Linked DNA regions of Homo sapiens: all the other regions are linked to region 5. The links come from fine-mapping of genetic effects on gene expression. A gene starts in region 5. Each other region holds a variant in brackets. All regions are shown on one strand. Distances are between the middles of the regions.

Region 1 (4,113 bases), 30 kb before region 5:
AGCTCCCAGGTCACCCAGGTCCTCTGCCCAGGCCATGTCTTCTGCAAAGGATTCCTCTGCTTGGTGCAGGGAGAAGGATCAAGGGCCAAGGGGGAAGAGGGGCTTTGAAGCCTCATCTGCCCAGAGGTAAGAGGCAGAGCAGAGGGCACATGTGGTAGGCACCACCTGGCCAGGGCAAGGACTGCAGGAATGCCACAGATGTGAGGAAGCCCCCAGCTTCAGACAAGACCCTGTGAGCCCCTACCATGTGCTAGGCATGTTGCACACAGAGGGCAGTGTCAGCCCAGTTGCCAGCTGGAGGGCAGAGAGCCCTTTAAGGACTTAACTATTTTTTATGTCACTTCTTCACCTCCACCCCAAAGGGATGCCCTGGAAAGCCCTGTCTGAGCAGCCTGCCCCTGCCACAGGTCCCTGGTGACCTGGTTCTCAAGCAGCAAGCTGGAGAGCCAGGGGAGGAAGTGGTTACTGACTGGGGTCTCCTGGCCCAACCCCCACACCAGCGTCCTCCGGGTTAGCTCTTAAGGTCACTCAGGGTGCCGGTGCATTTCGCCACAGACTGCCTGAGCTCACCCTGCTGCAGCCTGGCCCGGGAGCAGGGGAGAAGCAGCTGCCGCAGAGGTTTCTTGTGCCAGGTCCAGCTTTGTGTCTTGATCCCAGGGCCTCTTGGGCAACAGCCACCCCCCTTCGCCAACTGCCCCACCAGCTGAGCTGATTAGCAGAGTGACCTGCCAGGAAGCTGGTCCTGGGGAGGCCACCCCTCCTGCCGGGCAGTAGAGCGGCTGCCTCCAACTCCTCCCCACCCTGGCCTGGGTTCGGGGTGTTCTGCTCCCCAACCCTGCAGCAGAGGCTCAGCTTCCATCCACCCGTCCCACCTCCCCATAGAGTTCAATCCAGGAAGGATCCCTCCTCCCTCTTTAAAGGCCTCCTACCCTGCCCTGTCCCCTCTCCTCGCCTCAATCCTGTGCTGGCCCTATATCCTGACAGCTAAAGCTCCTGGGGCCAGCTGGCTGAGGTTTGTGGGCTCTGGTTTACCCTCTCATTCTCTAGGTGAGGAATACTCTCTCTACTTGCTTAACACACCGCAAGGGGCAGCTGCTTGATGTGTCAAGACCCCAGCTTTGGAGCCGTGGAAACTTGGCTGCAAGCCTGATGGGGCTCAGCGACCAGGGAGGACATCCTGCTCACAGAGCCTTCGTGTGCCAGCTCGTCTGTCACACACGGCCAGAATTGTCTCTCTTATCGAGGCCGTGGCAAGCTGCACAAGCTGGTGTACGTCATCACACCTGACGTACCAGAGCAGGTGTCAATAAATGTCACTTCTCTTCCACACCTCGCCCGGGCCCGCTGCCACCCTCCGGTTAGACCTCCGGTGACTTCAGCTTCCTGCTGTGAAATGAAGGGCCCAGACACAAGAGCTCTCAGATCTCCTCTGGCCCTAATTCTGTTTCCCTGACCCAGCCCAGGAATGTAGAGAGTCAAATAACAAAGGGAGGTGTGCATGGAAGATACGTACCCAGAGATGCAGGGGTCTTCTCCCGAGGCCCACTCCCCCGAGCCAATCTTAAAAGAACGGGGGAGAGAAAAGCATCATGAGGGATGGCCAGCCAGAGACACTGCTGGGGGAGCCCAGGGTGGCTCCAGGATGGGGCAATGGCCGAGATGGGGGACAGAGGGGACGGCACTGTTATCCCTGCAGAGGCTCTTGGCCCAGGATTCAAGCTGCAGGAGATACAGCTCCCTCTGCAAACACAAGGGCAGGCTGACCACCAGGCCAGGTTCAGCCCCATTTCCTGGCAGTGCAGCTCGCGCATTCCCCAGGAGGCTGACACCCACACAGAAACTGCTGACTTAAAGGAAGCCCCCACCCTCCCGCTGTGCTGCTTGGGCCTGTGGAGTTGACAGCAGCTGCAGTA[A/G]ACAAGGGTAAACTGCCTCCCAGCTTAGACAGCACTGAGCTCAAGTTCTCCAAGCTGCCCCAACCCCGTGAGAGCTCAGTGACCCCTAAATAGTCCCACTCGTGATTGTAATCCCCATCCCAGGGCCTGGGGGGCGGAGCTGATCCCCTTTGCTGTGGCAGGAAGTCACCACTGTTTTGTACCAGAAGCTCAATCCCAATTACCCACAGGAGGGGGAAGACAGTGGCATCCCTGGCACTGGTTTTAATTGTAATTTCTTAAGTTGGAAGCACCATTTACTTATTCAACAGATATTTACTGAAGACCTACTATGTGTCAAGCACTATTCTAGACACTGGGAATGGAGCATCAATAAGACATGACACTCCCCGCCCTCCGGGAGCTCAGGTTCCCATGGAGACCAGCCCTGCAGCGTCCTACATGGCTTTCCCTTCTCGGTGGACATCAGGACCCACTGGGGGGCTGACAGAGTAACAAGCCACAGCAACAGGTCAGGAACACAATATCCCACACACTGGCCTCAGAGGATCACAGTCCAGGCCGGGCTGCAGGAGGGGCGGTAGGACAGCCCCCCTCAGTGCCTGCCTGGATGCAGGGGAACCCTGATCCTTGGGGACTGTGGAGGTCAGGGGAGTCCACAGGAGGAGCGGAGCTTCAACCTGGGCGTAGATCAGCCGGGATTCGCCATTGCTCCCAGGGCCAGGCCCAGCCTCTTGGGTCTGGACCCACAGGGAGGGATCGTGTGGGCTGGAGATAGTAAGCGAATGCTCCAGGGCACCCCTGACCTGGGGAGCTCGCCCACTAGGCCTTTGCCATTGTAACCCACCACTGCTTAACCACTGCCCAACGGCACTAAGAGGATTGGAGGCGGGCGGGGAGGGGAAGTGGAGCATCAAAGTCCACACAGTTGCCCTTGGCTTCTATGAGCTCATGGAGGTCCCAGGCTGCCTGAGGTGAGCACAGGATGCCAAAAACCCCAATGCTTATGCCTCGGCTTTGCCCCTGGGGCCCTGAGCTGCAGCCTCCCCCGCTCTGCGCCCCCCCAACACACACACACACACACACACACACACCTGCTCTGAGCAAGGGATTTGGCCTCAGAGGACTTGGCGCAGCTTCTCTTAAGCTGTGGACCCTGGGGAAGCCTCTTGCCCTCCCCTTCTCTAGCGACCCCACAGCAGAAAGGACTGAGGCCAAGACAGGCCATGCCGATCAGGGCCCCTGCCTTCCTGCACGTGGCAGCCCCGCCCCACCCTGTGCGAACCTCACAGAAAACCCACCACCGCTCAGGCTCCTCCGCAGGCCCCAAGGAGGTGGGTGGAGCAGGAGCAGCAAAGCCCTGTTTCCAGCAAGAGCCCCTCCCGGCTCCAACCCAAACGTCTAAGCATGTCCAAGAGTGGCCTCAGCACTGTCCCCAGCACCTGCCTCTTCTCCTATGCCCTGTCTCCAAGAAGGGTGCCAGTATCTGTCCAGTGGCTGAAGCCAGGAACCCCGGCATGGTCTCAGCTCCCCCATCTTCAGCCCACATCTACCCCGTGGCTTAGCCCTGCCATTCATCCCGCCCCGCCCCCACCTCTGCATCCTCAGCCCACAGACTCCCTGCCTCTGCCCTGCTCAGCCACCCTTTGCCTTCTCCCCGGATTCCTGCAGCAGCCCCACCTCCATCTACACGGTCCATGCCACTCTGAGGTTGCCAACATGGCCTTTCTAAGTCACAGCAGATGCCACTTTCACACCCGAAAGCCTTTGGTGGCACCTCCTTACAGGAGGATGAAGCTCCCACTTCTCAGTTGGCACACAGGCCCTTCACCCCCACCCCGCAGGCTGTCACGCAAGGATGCAGGGGCTCACTCCTCCTTCCGTCTCTCCCTCTTCCACCTCCATCTCCATCTCGCAAGTGTGCCCTCATCCTGCCCTGAGAAGTCTGCCTGGCATGATTCAGATCTCTTTCTCCTGGGTCACCAACATGACAGGCAGCCTTCGCCTACGCACCCACCTCTCTGAACTTCACCTTGATGACTTCCTGGCTGGAGCACACAGATTGTGACCTATGCACCTGGCACATAGTAGGTGCTTAACAGCTTTTAGGTGAGTAAACGGACAGATGGATGACTGAAATGGTAATAGAGCCTCCATCCCCTCCATTGGCTAGAGAGCCCCACATTGTCAACAAAGGGAAATCCATGTCACAAACCAAACA
Region 2 (4,113 bases), 23 kb after region 5:
GATTGGATCCTGATTTGAAAAGAAACTGAATATTAACGTGCTGCTGCTACACTCCAGCCTGGGTGACAGAGTGAGCAAGATTCTGCCTCAAAAAAAATTAAAAATTAAATAATATTAAATAATTAGACAGGAGGATGGTATTAGGGGATTACGGTTTGGAGCTTCAGAGATATAAGAATGGTATTGTAGTTATTGCAGGAGTCATAATCTGTAGGCACGTCACCCTGAAGTAGTTAAGAATAAAGTGTGATGATGCCTTCAGTTTACTTTCTAGTAGATCAGCAAAAATAAATATATGCACACAAATACAGATGAAGAAAAATATAGCCAAATATAGTCATGGACTGCATAATGACATTTTGGTCAATGTTGGACCACATATACAACGGTGGTCCCATAAGATTATAATACAATAGCGTATTACTTGGCTTTTTCTATGTTTAGATACACACATCTCTCTGTGTTCCAACTGCCTACAGTACTCAGTCCAGGAACATGCTGTCCAGGTTTGTAGCCTAGAAACAATGTAGGCTACATAAGATAGCCCACATGTGTAGCGGGCTGTGCCGCCCAGGTTTATGTCAGTGCACTCTTTGATTCTCACAATGACACAATTTCACCTAACAACATCTTTCAGAACATATCCCCGTTGTTAAGGGTCATATGACTATATCAACAGTGTTTTACTTTAAGTGGCGTGTATATACAGATCATCATACTATTCTTTTTTTTCTTTTTTTTGAGCCAGAGTCTCACTCTGTCGCCCAGGCTGGAGTGCAGTGGCACGATCTCAGCTCACTGCAAGCTCCGCCTCCCAGGTTCACTGCCTCAGCCTCCTGAGTAGCTGGGACTACAGGCGCCCGCCACTACGCCCGGCTAATTTTTTGTATTTTTAGTAGAGATGGGGTTTCAGCATGTTAGCCAGGATGGTCATGATTTCCTGACCTTGTGATCCGCCCCCCTCGGCCTTCCAAAGTGCTGGGATTACAGGCATGAGCCACCGCACCCGGCCTATACTATTCTTTTAACTTTTCTGTATATTTGAAATTTTCCTAAGTTGGGAAAAGAAGTGAAAAACCATATTCTTCTCCCTCTTCCCCACTATCATTGACATATGTAAACTCCTGGATTTCATGGACAAAGTCTATGGGGAAATTGATGCAGTTGGTGTATGATGTGGTTAATTTCTTTCTTATTTTGGCTATTACTTCACTATTTAAGGACATGAGGGGGAAACATCAATTCAAGCTTCCTATGCTCAGCAACTGTGTCAGACTAAAGAGCTGCTGCAGCTTCTCTTGACAGCTGGGCACTTTTTCGGGTTAGCATCTGTAGCCCGGTGGGGAGTTTGGTCAGGTCCAGGGAGGGTACAGCCAGGCCAGGGAAACTGGAGGTGCAGCCACCACCTGGAGACTCGATCTCCTCCCATCAGGATTCCCTCCAGGCCCCTCTCATCACGCCTGCTGCTGGGCTACAGTCATTCAGGTTCCGCTTCAGGACTTGGACACCAGAAAAGAGCTGCAAGCACTTTGGAGATTCTCTCAGCCAATCCCAGAGGGCTGGCGCGCAGAAAGCTCACATCCCCACCCTCCACGGGAGTTTAGACAGGAGGCGGCCAGAACCAACTGCTCTCCCAGAAGGCTGGGATAAAAAGAAATTTGCACAAAGCAAGACTGGCACCTAGTGGATGCTTTTTATATTGACGTTTGTATTATACTTCTAACCAGAGAAAGTAACCTGGACAATCCCGACAAGCCTGGTGAAGATGAGAAAAAATACAATTGTAGCAACCTGGTCGTGCTTCCCCTGAATTCACCAAATCCAAGGAACAGCAAAAAGCCAATACACACGTGTGCACTCCAAAATCCAAAAATGGAATGTCAGCCCGCTGTAGTGGCTCACGCCTGTAATCCCAGCATTTGGGGAGGCCAAGGAGGGAGGATTGCTTAAGCCCAGGAGTTCAAAATCTGGGCAACTTAGCAAGACCCCAACTCTACAAAAAATTTAAAAACTAGCCAGGCATGGTGGTGCATGCCCATAGTCCCAGCTACTCGGGAGGCTGAAGCAGGAGGATCACTTGAGCCTGGGAGTCCGAGGCTGCAGTGAGCCATGATCATGCCACTGCACTCCAGCCTGAAAAACAGGGCAAGACCCTGTCCCAAAAGAAAAGGAAAAAAAAAAAAAACAAGGTCTAGTGAGGGAGAAAGGATCATTTGGAGACACCTGAAAAGAATTTGCCATA[C/T]GCTCTCCACTCATTCAAACTCATTTTGGTTGCTTACCACTAGATAATCTCTTACACCTGATTTCCAACCAATCAAGGACCTCAGTTCTAAAATGCTCAAGTTGCAAATTTCTAGAACGGACCTATTTGTCTTTCACTTTCATCACTCTTGCTTCCTAGAAGGCCCTCCCTCAAATCCTAAAATCATTTAAATCCCTGGCTCTTAATAGATCAATTTCTTTTTTGTCATGACTGTAATGGCTTCACTGGTGAAAGTTAATGACTCATTCTACCTCACATCCTAATTAGTTGCTCAACTGTGTCTCCCTACTCATCCCTATGCCATAGTCCCCCTCCTAGGGACATTCAACACTGTGTCAAATGCAGGGCCCTGAACACCCAGCTGTGAGAGAGTGGCAAAAAAACAAAAACAAAAAAACACCTCTCCTATTGAAGATACCCTCCCCACCCTTGTAGACCCCCTACTCCTTCCCTATCCTATGAAACTGAAGTTCGAAATAAACACACAAAATCATTCATTCATGAGGTAAGAGTGTGGTAAGTATCATGTGAACAAACCTTATCAATGTTGCCCAAACTGGAATGTTCAGATATACACACTCCTAAAGGAGCAATGAGATCATTTCTTCCAGCGTCATGACTCCAGCCAGAGGGAGAAGAGCCACAATTTCCCAATTTTAAAAAATCATCATCATTGTATTACTATCATGTGAGAAAGGTACATTTTAATGTTATAATATTCCGTAATGAAATCAATTCTTGGCCAGGCGCAGTGGCTTATGCCTGTAATTCCAGCACTTTGGGAGGTCGAGGCAGGCGGATCACCTGAGGTCAGGAGTTGGAGACTAGCCTGGCCAACATGGCGAAACCCCGTCTCTACTAAAAATACAAAAATGAGCCAGGCGTGGTGGCGGGCGCCTGTAATCCCGGCTACAGGAGAATTGCTTGAATCCGGGAGAAGAAAGTTGCAGTGAGCCGAAATCACGCCACTACACTCCATACTGGGCAACAAGAGCAAAACTCCATCTCAAACAAACAAACAAAAAGAAATCAATTGTAAATTAACCTATTGGCTTATCACAAGCCCAATCAAAATTCCCATAGGATTTGTTTTTCGTTTTTTGTTTTTTGTTTTTTGAGACAAAGTCTCCCTCTTGTGGCCCAGGCTGGAGTGTAGTGGCGCGATCTCGGCTCACTGCAACCTCCGCCTCCCGGATTCAAGCAATTCTCCTGGGATTACAGATGCCCTCCACCATTCCCGGCCAATTTTTGTACTTTTAGTAGAGACAGGGGTTCGCCATGTTGGCTAGGCTAGTCTCGAACTCCTGACCTCAGGTGATCCGCCCGCCTCGGCCTCCCAAAGTGTTGGGATTACAGGCATGAGCCACCATACCCGGCCAGGATTTATTTTTAACTTGGGTAAAATATTGTGTGGAAGCTCATCTATAAATTGTTACAGCCATACTGAGAGGCAATTTGACGGAATCTATTGAAATTTAAGGTACATGTAGCCTGTGACCAGAATTCCACCTCTCCTTACCCACCTGAGAAAGATGCTGGCACAGGTGCACATAAGGCAGGCACGAGGTCGCCGCAACTTCACTTTACTGAGAAACAGGAAGCACCCCAAGCATCTATCGATCAGGGAATGGCAGCAGTGGTTCTCCGAAGCGCAGCCGTAACACAGCAGCAGCAGCAGCATCACGTGGGACGCATTCTTTGGCCCCCATCTGGCTGAATGAGAAACTCCAGGGTAGGGCAAAGCAGCCTGTGTTTTAACCAGCCCTCCCTCTGATCCTGCTGCAGTTAAAATGAACGTAGTCCTATGTTATTAATTTGGAAAGTCCTCCAAAATATATTGGGTTTAAAAA
Region 3 (4,113 bases), 21 kb before region 5:
CACATATACACATACTCAGACACACACACTCTTGTACTCACATACATGCATATACTCACATATACATGCACACATACACACTCATACACATACACTCACACATACCTGCAGGCACTCATACATGTGTGCACACACAAAGACACTCAGACACACTCACTCTCACACACACGTGCTCTGACATCACTCTGGACTGACCACGGGGATGTTGCTGGCCATCTAGAGCACTGTCTTACTTACAAGCCATAACCCGATTTATGCCAACACAAAGATCCTCTTCCCCACTTGTTTGTGGGATATGAAGACCCCTTTTCAAGTCCAAAAGTTTGTGGACTGTCCCCCATACACATGATACTGGTTGTATTTTTAGTATCCATCAATTAAGAAAATATTTAATTACAAAGAGCTGCCATGAACTCAATCATGCTTTAAAATAGTGTTTTATTCATAGCCGGGCACGGTGTCTCACACCTATAATCCCAGCACTTTGGGAGGCCAAGGAGGGCAGATCACCTGAGGTCAGGAGTTTCAAGACCAGCCTGGCCAACATGCTGAAACCCGTCTCTACTAAAAATACAAAAATTAGCAGGGCATGGTGGTGGGTGCCTGTAATCCCAGCTACTCAGGAGAATCGCTTGAACCCGGGAGGCGGAGGTTGCAGTGAGTTGAGATCACACCACTGCACTCCAGCCTGGGCGACAGAGTGAGACTCCATCTCAAAATTATATATATGAGATAAAATAATTAGTGTTTTATTCATTACTCCGGCAACCTCATCCACTAAGGCACTGGGAGAAGACAGAGGCTGGAGACATTGTTCGTGATGCCATTGACCCAGCCTGCCGGAGCCAAGAGGCAGAGAAGCCCCGGCAACCATGCTGGGACCTCCCTAGGTCTGTGGCTCATGGGTGGAGCCCCCAGCCCTTTCCCTGCCTGGTGTCCCAAGAACTCTGCCACAGCATGGAGGGTCAGCCACAAGGAGCCCCAGTGGATCTCAGGGGGACAGAGGGAGAGAAGTCAGCAAGGAAGGTTTGACTTGGAGCTCTTACCGCGTGCGTGGGGCCCTCAGGCCTGTGAGGACTCCCTGGCCTGGAGGTAACGGGCTGGGAAGGGAGCCAGGCACACGGGAGGGGGTCGCTGCAACCGTCCTGGCCTTTGGGATGGGTGGGATCACGATGGCGCCCAGGGACTTCTGCATCTTCTCATCATTGCAGTGCAGGTATTGCCAGGAGATCTGCGCCTGGGAGCAGAGGCGGGACAGGGGTCTGGCCTATGGCAACATCCCATGGTGAATGCTCACCTCCAGGCACCTCACACAGTGTGGGACCTGCTGTCTCTTTTCAGCCACACCACCCTGGGACCCCCAGAAGCCTGACTGCTTCCTTACCACTCCTGGTGAGGAGACTGGCAAGCCCTTTTGTGACTATTATTATTCGTTTTTCTGTTCTCATTTCAGAAAAATCCTAGAACATCAGAGCTGGAAGGACCTTCAAACACATCTGGGCCAAACCTCTATTTTCATAGATGTGCAAACTGGGGCCCAAAGAGGGGTGTGACTTGCACAAGGTCACACAGCCAGTGAGGGGCAAACAGAAACCAAGGCCCAAATCTGAGTCCTAGCCCAGCATTCTTTGCCACACTCTTGCTTAAAATGGAGAGGGCCAGAAAGCAGGAGGAATTCTGGAACATTTAGACCAGAGAAGGCCTAGGGGACCACCAGTTCTAGGACAAAGGTCATGCAGCCTCTGGCACAGCCACCCAGAGCCCCCAGGCCAGCTATGGAGGTTTGAGATGCTGGGGGAGGTGGTGAAATGAGCACCTTGAGCCTCTCCCAGTGCTGTCCCTATCCTCACTGCAGACCTCAAGACACCTCCAGGGATGCTCAGGGCATGGAGTCAGGGGTTGGTGGAGGCTAGAAAGAAAGGCAGGAGGAAGGGAGGGCAAGAAGCTGAGGACCAGACTCACAGCAGTCGAACCACCTTACCTCCTGAGCACCGGGTCTCAACTCGTGAGGACCCGGAATGCTCCCCGGTAGGTCCAGGCCCTTCTCTTTGACTCCGCTGGCCTCAGGGGTGGTAGGGATGCTCTGGATGAGAGGCATCGGCCTGGGCACCCTCAGCAGCCTCTGAGAGGTGGCTCGGGGGATGGTGCTGTGCAGGGGAACTCCTTGGGGGCCTCCCCCTGGATCCAGAGAGGCTGTACAGGGATGGGGATGGGAAATCAGTTAGTCCCAGAAGAACAGGGAGTGGAAGGTGGATTCAGACCCCAGCAACGGGGCCTTCTGCCCTGGGAAGGACTGGGATGGCGAGGAGAGAGATCAGATCTGTCCCCAACCCCACCACTGGTAGACTGAGCAAGCAGCCACTTCTGAGTGTCTGTGCCATTCCAGAAAGGGCCAATCCAAGTTACCTGTTTAGAATTCAGAGGCAGCGTGGGAAGGAAGGGAAATAAAAGCAGTGCCAGATCAGGAGGAAGCATGGCAGGTCCTGGCCGTGGGTAGAAGCTATGTGACCTCGAGCAAG[G/C]CACTGTCTCTCTGAACCCCATTACACTTCTGTGAAATGGGGTGATTCAATAACATCACTTATATAAGATGCCAGGCAAGTACCTGCCACTGTTTCCCCTTCCTTTTCGGCTGGTGATGTGGGGCGTAGCTGTTTTGACACAGCTAACATAGTCTAAGACAGACCGCCACACTTCCAGCTCCCCTCTGAATGCTTTAGGTGCCCAACAGACATCTTCAGCGCCCTGTGCCCCACCCCATCTCACCCCACAGCCATGCCTCAGGCAAAGGCACAGGGCAAGAAGCACTGGGTTGGGCCAAGAGCTCAGGGTTATCTTTGTAAATATCAGTGATGAGGAATAAAAAAAAAAAAAAGACTAGCATTTTAACTTTCATTCTGGCCTCAACAAAACCACTGCATCAAAACAGCCAAGTCAGGCCAGGCGCAGTGGCTCACGCCTGTAATCCCACACACTTTGGGAGGCCGAGAACGGGAGGATCACTGGAGGTCAGAAGTTCAAGACCAGCCTGGCCAACATGGTGAAACCCCATCTCTACTAAAAATTAGCCGGGCGTGGTGGCACATGCCTGTAGTCCCAGCTACCGGGGAGGCTGAGGCAGGAGAATCGCTTGAACCTGGGAGGTGGAGGTTGCGGTGAGCCGAGATCGCACCACTGCACTCTAGACTGGGCAACAGAGCAAGACTCGGTCTCAAAAAAAAAAAAAAGATTAGCTGGGCCTAGTGGTGGTTGTCTGTAATCCCAGCAACTCAGGAGACTGAGGCAGGAGAATCACTTGAACCCAGAGGTTGCAGTGAGCCAAAATCGCACCACTGCACTCCAGCCTGGGTGACAGAGCGAGACTCTGTTCCAGAAAAAAAAAATTAAAAAAAAATAAACCAGCCAAGTCAAAATATCATCTCTGTTCCTGCACACTCGCTCCCCTCCTGGCTTCCGGTGCTGGTTCTGTTCTGTCTTGGAGCACTGTTGTGTTGTGGTTAGCCTGTGGGGAGCTGAAAGGATGGAAAAGAAGGGGTGTGGTCAAGTGGAGACTGTGCCACTTGCCGGGCCACCTTGAGCCCCAGCTGGGTCAGGGCACAGAGGAGTCAACTCAGCCTCAATGCAGGGGCCAGAGCAGCCCCAGCACTGCCCGGGGGCCAGAGATCCCCGGCCCTCCATGCTTGCTGAGGGGCCTGATAAGTCTATAGGTCACTGCCCATCAGAACATTAGGTAGAACAACTCCATTCTTTTTTTCCCTATGCTGGAACTTTGTAAAAAAGAAATGAAATATCTAGAAAAGGGCTTCAAGCCCCTAAGGGAGAGAGTTGTTGGTCTGGCAGCTCTAGGAGTTGTACCTACTGGAAGTTCTAAGGAAGCTTCTCGGGCATTCCAACCCCACCTTCTGCCTCCATAATGTGCAGCCAGGACAATTCCTCCCAGAGGCTCCCTGGCATTGTCCTGGGCTCCCCGGGAGCTGGAGACACCCCACGGCTCCAGGGAGAGGCTCAGCAGGTGGAGCAGTCTGCACAGGGGAGGGGAAGAACAGCCAACCACAACCCCAGGCTTGACGGCAGCAACCACGTGCCTCTTGAGAGCACTTCCCCTTTCTTCCTAAG
Region 4 (4,113 bases), 41 kb before region 5:
TGGAGAGAGGAGAGAGGCCCTCCAGGGTGCTGGACCCTGCCAAGGGCTCTGGGACGCATGGAAAATGGGCCCTGCACCACCCTCTTCCTCCACCCCCACCCTTCCCCTGACCTAGGCCTTGCCACGCTGGAAACAAAAACCCTGCAGCCACTCTGAGCAAAACTGTCCCATTTTGTTATCATCTCAATTATTAATCCCATCATTATCATGACCATAGGAAATGTGTACACTCTGTCTTCAAAGCACTTTTACAAAGAATGTCTGATTTGATCTTTGCAACTACCAAGTGAGAAATAGGTACCATGAGAAGCACAGTAGTGCTGACTGAGGCTCTAATTAACCTGGGAGAATGTAACTGTATTTTTTCTGGATGCCTCACTTTGCAGAGGAAACAGAGACCCCAGGCCACATGCAGGAAGGCAGATGCTCCCCACACAGCCCAGGCCCCTGTGTTAACAAAACAGCGTCCTCCGTATTCATCCCCACCCCACCCCCACTGGAGCAGCCCACTCCCAAGGGCAGGGCACAGCCTCCACATGAGAACAAATGTAGCCTCCTGCCTCTCTGGACCCAGCTAGACCAAGCCACAGAGCCATGAAAGAAACGCTTTGGGAAATACTACCACTGCCCTGGAGTTGGGGATCTGGCCCTGGACGCTCCATCCCTCCTTAGGCATTTTGAGTACAGAGGACCATGCAGGCCGACACATGGGCATGTGGGATTCTAATTGTTTCCATTCTCAAAGATTACAAATAAGGAAACCCTAGGCCTCAGTTTTCCAATCTGAGAAATGGGTGGCTACCTCCTACCTCAGTGGCTGAAGGCTGAGAAATAAGCAGGGATCCCCATGTCCCTGAAGCCACAGCCCCTCCACAGCTGCTAGCGGACTGCATCCAGCAGCTGCAGTGGGGCCAAATGCACAGCACACAGGCTGGGGGGCCTCACCTCCCCAGTCACCACCAAGCACACGTCGTGCAGCTTCCCGGTGAGGACCTCTGAGTGACAGGCTGCCAAGCGCTGGATGCTCACCAGACCCTTCTCCTTCATCTGCCTGAGAAGCAAGGCCAGGCCCTGTTGCAGAAGGGTGGAGAGGGAGGAGCCCCACCCCTCTGCAGACTAGGGGCCCCACATCACACACCATCACGGTCCACCGTCACCCGCAGCAGGGTGCCATTCCATGGCCTCAGAGCAGGGTTTCCCGGGGTAACACCCTGGCCTGGAATCCTAACCACTCAGTAAAAGCCAGTTTTATGTGGCCTCTGGCCAGCCCTCAGCTCTGACAGTGCTGTATGGAAGCCCACCCCCCTCCAGGACCTGTCTGGGTCCTTGACACAAAGCCAACACCTTCAATAAAAGGCACTTGAACAGGGAGGACTGAAGGCAGGGAGGGCTTCTCACAAATGTTCTGGAGGCCGAGGCATTGCTTTGCTCATGACTACGGTCCTGCATCCCCACAGTGGGAGGAGCGCTCGGAGCAGATTCAATTTCATTCAGAGAAATAAAGGGCTGCGGCCTTCCTGGGCCCCATGGTGTGGAATCAAATGCATCCTTGCCATGCCTGGCTTTGGTACACCACAGAGCCATGCATAGG[C/T]TGCTTGGAGGGTCGCAGGGCACACACATAAAGCCAGGAACACCACACACTCATGCACACACGCACATAAACACACATATCTATATGCATGCACAGTCCTCCCTCCAAACTGGCTTTTATGCTCCATGGTGCTGGAACCCCAGAGTGGGAGAGGAGGGAAGTTGAGGGGCAGAAGCTATTCTGCAACAGCCCCTGCTTCCGGCCAGAACACAGCACGTGGTGGAAGCATCTCCTCACCAGTCACTGCTGTTGAGGCACTGGAGTGCATCCCTCAGCCCCAGCTCCGGGTTCGAGAAAGGCCTCAACTCCTTACAGGCTCTAAGATCCATCTCCTCCTCTTCTTCCCATTCAGGAGACCCCAACGTGAGCACCGCAGGTAATGAGTTAGCTGCATTCACAAGAAAGAAACAGCAGGCTTCACGCAGCAGGACAGGCAAGAGCCCGAGTGGCCGCTCCTGCCACCGCTCACCATGGGAGGCCGTGCCACCACCCTGAGCCCACCTAACAGGGAGGGTGTACAAGTGGAAGTGCCTGGTGAGGCTAAGAACCCAGCGCCTGGGCCTCCCTCCCCAGGAGCCATGAAGACCTCCTAACTCTACCTTTGGCTGACTTTTCCCCTTCCTGCCCTTGCCAATGCGATTCTTATAAACAGATTTGTGATAAGCCACATGATGTCATGGGACTAAACCCCCCAGTCAGGGGGACACCTCCAAACCTGCCCCATCTGTGGTGGGGTGGGGCCCCCTGAGCCATCAATGAATGATCTCCCTACTCACTTTGGTGGCGGTCTAACCTCATTCCCAACCAGAGGCCTGTATGGTCAGCGCCTCTTCCTTCCCTCTTGCTATCCAGCCTTTTGTGAGGTTGCCCACAAGCAGGGAAGAGTCCAAGAGCAGATGGCTAGAGGAAGACAATGTAGCTAACTGGCACCCACACAGTCCAGATGCAGCCACACACACAGGGACCCACAACAAACAGGTTGTCGTGTTTTCTAGGCTCTCCTTCCCAGGAGACAGATGCTGAAATCATAAACTCCTAGGACAGGAAGGAGTCTTACAGGGCCTCTGTCTAGCCAAATGCCCTGATCACACAGTTGAGGTCCCAGAGGCCCAGAGAGGGTGGGGGACCCTCCACAGCCCCTCGGCTCCTCTGTCAGCACAGCCAGGACAAGAAGATCCCCCTCCCAGTCCAGAGCTCTCACTACCACATCTTCCTTCCTGGCGAGTTTTCTCCCGAGCTTCACCTCCACCAGGATGATTTTCACCACAGTACATCTGGAGGTCCTAGGCAAGTCTGAGTGGAGAGGAAGCCCTTTACTGAAAGTGGACGCACAGCCGGGCACAGTGGCTCACATCTGTAATCCCAGCACTTTGGGAGGCCAAGGCAGGCAGATCACCTGAGATCAGGAGTTCAAGACCAGCCTGCCCAACATGGTGAAACCCTGTCTTTACTAAAAATACAAAAATTAGCTGGGCATAGTGGTACATGCCTGTAATCCCAGATACTCGGGAGGCTGAGGCAGGAGAATCGCTTGAACTCGGGAAGCGTAGGTTGCAGTGAGCCGAGATCATGTCACTGCACTCCAGCCTGGGCGACAGAGTGAGACTCAGTCTCAGGGATTAAAAAAACAAACAAACAAAAAAAGCGGAGACACAAAGCCCTCACTCTTGGACTCTTTTTCAGCACTGCCCTTGGCAGGTGGAACAGTCTCTTAATCAGTTATTTCAGTCACTCTCTGAAAGGCAGGAGGTAATATCCAACCTCCCCATCCTTCCCTGGGCAGCACGGACGTGAATGACATGCTGTCTGCAACGCTCTCAAAAAGAGGCTCAGTCTTCTGGAGCGAGCAATACAGCCACCTGCCCTGCTGCCCCCCTTCCTCGCCTTCACCGCACCCCACAGGGGCATTTAGCATCCACTGGATTTAAAAACAAACCCACAAAAGGCACTGGCAGGGGGATTCCAGCCTCCAGTGTCTTGAGGGCTTGTGTGGCCTCCCCCTTTGCCCTACCTCTGACAGCTTTCCAGTCATGTTCGTATTTGTGCCTTCTGGTTCAGTCATTTCTATTTTTCACACACACAACAGAAGAAGTTGAACAGATCCTGAGCTGAGCTCACCTAAACTAACCCAGTCTCCCAAGAAAGGCCAGCTCCTTGTTGGAAACAGTGAGTTCCTCTTCAAAGGTCCCGCTTGTCCTCTATTTTCAAAGCTTAACTTCCTTGCCTCCTTGCCCCTAGTTACAATAAACAACTTTCCAGCCACTCCCAATCTGTAACCCACATCCATTCCCAATCTGTAACCCACATCAGTTCCCAATCTGTAACAACCCACATCTGTTCCTTATTTGAGGCCCTTAGTTCCAAAACTGCTCTTCCCACCGCTAGAGCCCCTGATCCATTTGAAGTAGCCAGTCGGGATCAGCTTAGATTGTGCTGTCCAACCCCAGCCAATGGGGACCGGACACAGTAGTAGGGACTGACTGCATTAGGGATAAAAACCCCTTCCCTCCTTTGTTGGGTGT
Region 5 (4,113 bases):
CAATGAAACAAACGACTGCCCCACTCAACACTATGGACGATGCCACAGCGTAATGTTTAGTGAAAGAAGACAGACCCAAGAGACCACACAGGGTATGCCCCTACTTCTATAAAGTTCAAAGAAAGACAAAATTACATCGAGTGTTTAGAAATGCATACATAGGCCCAGCGTGGTGGCTCACACCTGTGATCCCAGCACTTTGGGAGGCCAAGGCAGGCATATCACCTGAGCCAGGAATTCGAGACCAGGCTGAGCAACATGGAAAAAACCCATCTCTACAAAAAAAAAAAAAAAAAAAAAAAAAAAATATATATATATATATATATATTTATATATACACACACACAAAGATTAGCCGGGCATGGTGGTGTGCACCTGTACACCCAGCTACTTGGGAAGCTGAGGTGGGAGGAACACTTGAGCCTAGGAGGCAGAGGTTGCAGTGAGCTGAGATCATGCCACTGTACTCCCACCTGGGGGACAGAGTGAAACCTTGTCTCAAAAAATGAAGCGAAATTAAATTAAAATAAAAATGCAGACATAGATGGAAAACTTGATAGAAAATCAAGGAAAAATTAGTAGCATGATTAACCCTAAGGGGAAGGGAGGCAGCTGTGATAAGGACAGGGCCCACGGGGGTGGGTTCTGGGAGGCGGCCAGTTTTTCTGTTTCTTGGCCTGGGAGGTGGCTACATGGACATTCACTTTATAATTATTCCTCACACTGCATGCATTTTATGCATTCTTCTGTCTGCAATAATAAACTTCCAGCCTCTGTGCTAGTGAGCAGAGTCTGGTGCCTCTGAGGTAGCCGTGGGGTCAATGGGAGGATGCGCTGCCCTCAGAGGCAGGTCTCTCCAGAGCTCAGGTTGACATCTCCCCATCCCTTGCCCCCAACTACCTCCCCCTTTCTTCAAATCTGTTAGTCTCAGGCTCCATGGGCTGAAACTGAGCCAGTCCTGGGAGCCAGCCTGTGGCTAGAAGGCTGCAGGGCCGTCTCCTGCAGGGCATTGGTGAGAAGAGCGAGGGACTGCCCAGTTCAGGATAGAAGCGATTATGGGCCCCTCACACCACTTCCTGGGGCCAGGCACCAATGCCCTGTGGCCTGCCTCAGTGATGCTCCGACAGAGTACGGGCCCCAGTCCCTCCCCTCCCAGCGCTCCTGAGGAAATGGCAGCCCTCTGAGGTCCCCCGCCAGCACCAGCCCTTGTCCTGGAGAAGTGACTGGCAAAACCTTAGTTTCAGGAGACTGAAATGTGCTCCAGAAAGGAACATGCCAATCTCCACCTAACAACAGCATCAACAACAAACAGTAACTTCCATTCTGCGCATGGGCTAACGTGCCAGCTGCCCTCCTGACTGTCTCCATGCTCACAGACAGCACCAAGGGGGCTTTTTTTAAACCCTTCTTCACAGATGAGAAACCTGAGGCTCAGAGAGGCAAAGAGCTCAAGTCCACACAGCCAGAAAGAGGGGGGGTTAGAATTCAAACCCAGAGCAGAGCCCCTCCAAGGCCTATGCTCTCACGGGGTGCCCCAGCACCCCTAAGCACGGGTGCCATCCCCACAGCATGCCCCCACCCTTCCCGGCACCATCGCCCACAGCACCCCAGGGAGCTGTTGCCCTGTGAAGGGTTCACCCTGAGGTAGAGAGCACTGCCCACAGAGGCCATGACTCGGGGAAGGGGTCAGCCCAGGCCAGCCCCTCCTTCCTTGGCTCCCAGTGCTCAGAGAACAGTGAGTCCAACCTCCTCCCCTAGAGCTGCCACATGAAGGCCCAGAAAGGGTCAGAGACATCCCCACGGTCACACAGCCTCCAAGTCACAGCAGGATGCTTTTTCTTTCTCTGTGTGTTTGTGCTTGCTCCAGTTCAGGTCTTTATCCCTCCCTCCAGGGACTTCAGGGGTCCTGACCCAGCCTCCCATTCACCACCTACAATAGATGGCTTGGTGGACCTATCGTCTCTCACCTCTCTGTCCAGAGGCCAAACCCCTGTCACTGGAGGAATCCAGGGTCCTTGGTCTCTATAGAGACGTTGATGCTCATGGGCCCAGGGAGGCAAGGACGGGGCAGCCCCAGGCCTGGCCCACCCTGGCCCCCACCAGCCACACAGTCCTGGGCCGCAGCCTCCTGTCTGAGCAGGGGCTGGGTGGCCACGAGCTCCACTGCTGGCGTGCTCCAGCTCTCAGCAAAGCTCTCCTTGAATAAACAAGGCTGCATAGCAACCACTCGCTGAAGGAGCCCATAGCTCCCTGCGCGGGGGAGAGACCGAGCCGAGAGATTTTCCCCTTGGTCTCATTGCCTCTGTGGCTCACCGGAGCACAGGCACTACCAAGTGGCCGACCTGTCCTCTAGGGTCATGGACACCACAGAAAGAGAGAGCACTGGGCCCCCCTGCCTGGTGACTGCAGCCAGGAAGTGCATAGCTGGCTTGGTGCAGGGATGTTGTTGGTAGAACTCCTGGTTTTGCTCACATGGCCTCTGGGCTCAATCTGCTTCTGTTTACTAACTCTCCTAGAGGCAGAAAGACAGAGTGAGCATCCAGGCCTTGGCAGCAGGCAGCTGGGTTTGAATCCTGATCCTGCTACTTCCAGCTGTGTGCCCTCTGGTCAGAACTTTACCTTTCTTGACCTCAGTTTCCTCATCTATAAAATGGGTACACCAATAGTACTGACTTGATAGGGTTGCTGTAAGGATTTCAAAGGTGCATGTAACAGCTTGTAATTTTGTCTAGCACTTGGTAGGCTCTCCATCACTTCCCCAGAAATCCTTGCAGAGCAGAAAGCCTGTGGCCTTCGTCCCAACCAGATTTCTCCACCTTAACTTTTGGAAAATGTGAATCCTAGCAGCCCATGTGTACTTTCTCACTGAACCCAGGCTCTTGGGCGGAAATCCCAGGCTGGCATCCTCTCTCTGGAATGACAGCCAGTCCCACTCCTCATGCTACCCCCTTCTAGCCCTCACCATCCAGGGGGCACACAGTGGAAGCCAAGGACTCAATTTGTATGCAGGCTTGCAAACAGCCACTCGCCCAAAGATACTATGAATTTTCCCAGGCAGCTCCTCCCCATATTCTGTACAAAGGAATCAGCAGGTGTGTGGAACACACAGGGATGGCTGGTGGGAGGCCAACTACACCCCACGAGGCCTGGGCTGCTGAAATGCTTGCACACGGGGTAGCTCCTTCCTGGGACTCTCTCCTCTTCCCTGAGATGGCCAGGGAGGGCAGGCCTTGGGAGTAGCTGCTGTCATTTACCAAGATCCAGGAGGGAGCAAGGAGGGCCAGCCAATTATGACTGAGAACAAGGTCCCTCTGGGGCAGGTGCTGGCCCCAAGCCAGAGGTCACAGCTGACAAGGCGAACGGAACTCCTGAACTCCCTGTAGCAGAGGCCCAGAAAGGAGACTCTTCCTCCAAACCAGGAACAGTGGCTGTGCGGATTCCCCTTGGGAGACAGGTATGAAGATGCCCAGGTGGGGAAAGAGAGGCCTGGCAAGTTAAGCCCTTGCCCCAAGCCACACAGCTTGTGAGTGAGAGCGACTCAACCATGGGAACCCAGGGCGGGGACGTGACAAGGCAGGTTTTGGTGTCCCTCAGCTCTGGCAGGGAGATGGTGTGTGTGCAGCTCCCCCAAAGCCCATCTGCATGTCGCTGCTTGAGTCGGAGCTTCTAGAACACAGATCCGATGGCCGTGCCCTGCTGGACACCCCTCATGGCCCCTGCTGTCCTTGGTGTAAGGGCCAGACTTAGCACCATGGCTGCCAAGCCCCTCTAATCAGGCCCCACTGCATCCTCCTTCAGCTCCTGGGCTCTCCACACTCTGCCTCCACTGGATGGCCGAGCATTATGTGTTCCCAAGGTGGGCTGGCCATGCTCTGTGCCAAATGCTAGAGACACAGGAGGCAGCACAGCCTGCCCTCAGGAGCTGAGTGATGGAGAGAGGCCCCAGCAGGTAACCCCCTGCTTGTTCCTGTGTTACCTGCAATAAGGGAGGATGGATAACACAGCACAGCCCTTAAGAACCAGGGCTCTGAAGCCCCTGGATTCCAGACTGGATTCTGATCCCAGCAATGACATCTTAGGCAAGAAACAAACTCTCTGAGTCTTGGTTCTTTC

Direction of the effects. Positions count from the first base shown, and alleles are read on the strand shown. Sizes are in standard deviations (SD) of each study's normalised expression. Not every link is listed here.
In carriers of allele T in region 2, the expression in unexposed skin of the gene that starts at base 2,208 in region 5 tends to be higher than with C alone (moderate effect, 0.56 SD a copy in GTEx).

What was found. PIP is the estimated chance that this variant, and not a neighbour inherited with it, causes the effect.
Region 1: its variant is fine-mapped to the expression of TOGARAM2 in blood mononuclear cells (TOPMed, PIP above 0.99). The same link has a PIP of 0.9 or more in memory regulatory T cells and whole blood.
Region 2: its variant is fine-mapped to the expression of TOGARAM2 in unexposed skin (GTEx, PIP 0.95). The same link has a PIP of 0.9 or more in sun-exposed skin and whole blood.
Region 3: its variant is fine-mapped to the expression of TOGARAM2 in whole blood (TOPMed, PIP above 0.99).
Region 4: its variant is fine-mapped to the expression of TOGARAM2 in whole blood (TOPMed, PIP above 0.99).

What each region holds. Positions count from the first base shown.
Region 1 is chr2:29,008,902-29,013,014 of GRCh38, reverse strand. It overlaps TOGARAM2 (TOG array regulator of axonemal microtubules 2), which reads right to left. Exons shown (of 20, transcript NM_199280.4): 7 at 1,514-1,560. Among named protein-coding and RNA genes, the nearest start is that of TOGARAM2, 30 kb to the right of the region's middle. RefSeq lists an enhancer at 1,724-1,853. The variant A/G (reference allele first, on the strand shown) is at 1,914.
Region 2 is chr2:28,956,371-28,960,483 of GRCh38, reverse strand. It overlaps a transcript of TOGARAM2 not described here. Among named protein-coding and RNA genes, the nearest start is that of TOGARAM2, 23 kb to the left of the region's middle. The variant C/T (reference allele first, on the strand shown) is at 2,243.
Region 3 is chr2:29,000,616-29,004,728 of GRCh38, reverse strand. TOGARAM2 (TOG array regulator of axonemal microtubules 2) reads right to left here. Exons shown (of 20, transcript NM_199280.4): 5 at 1,982-2,193; 6 at 1,047-1,237. Among named protein-coding and RNA genes, the nearest start is that of TOGARAM2, 21 kb to the right of the region's middle. The variant G/C (reference allele first, on the strand shown) is at 2,520.
Region 4 is chr2:29,020,024-29,024,136 of GRCh38, reverse strand. TOGARAM2 (TOG array regulator of axonemal microtubules 2) reads right to left here. Exons shown (of 20, transcript NM_199280.4): 11 at 1,829-1,979; 12 at 946-1,051. Among named protein-coding and RNA genes, the nearest start is that of TOGARAM2, 41 kb to the right of the region's middle. RefSeq lists an enhancer at 1-410. The variant C/T (reference allele first, on the strand shown) is at 1,592.
Region 5 is chr2:28,979,393-28,983,505 of GRCh38, reverse strand. TOGARAM2 (TOG array regulator of axonemal microtubules 2) reads right to left here and starts at 2,208. Exons shown (of 20, transcript NM_199280.4): 1 at 1,968-2,208.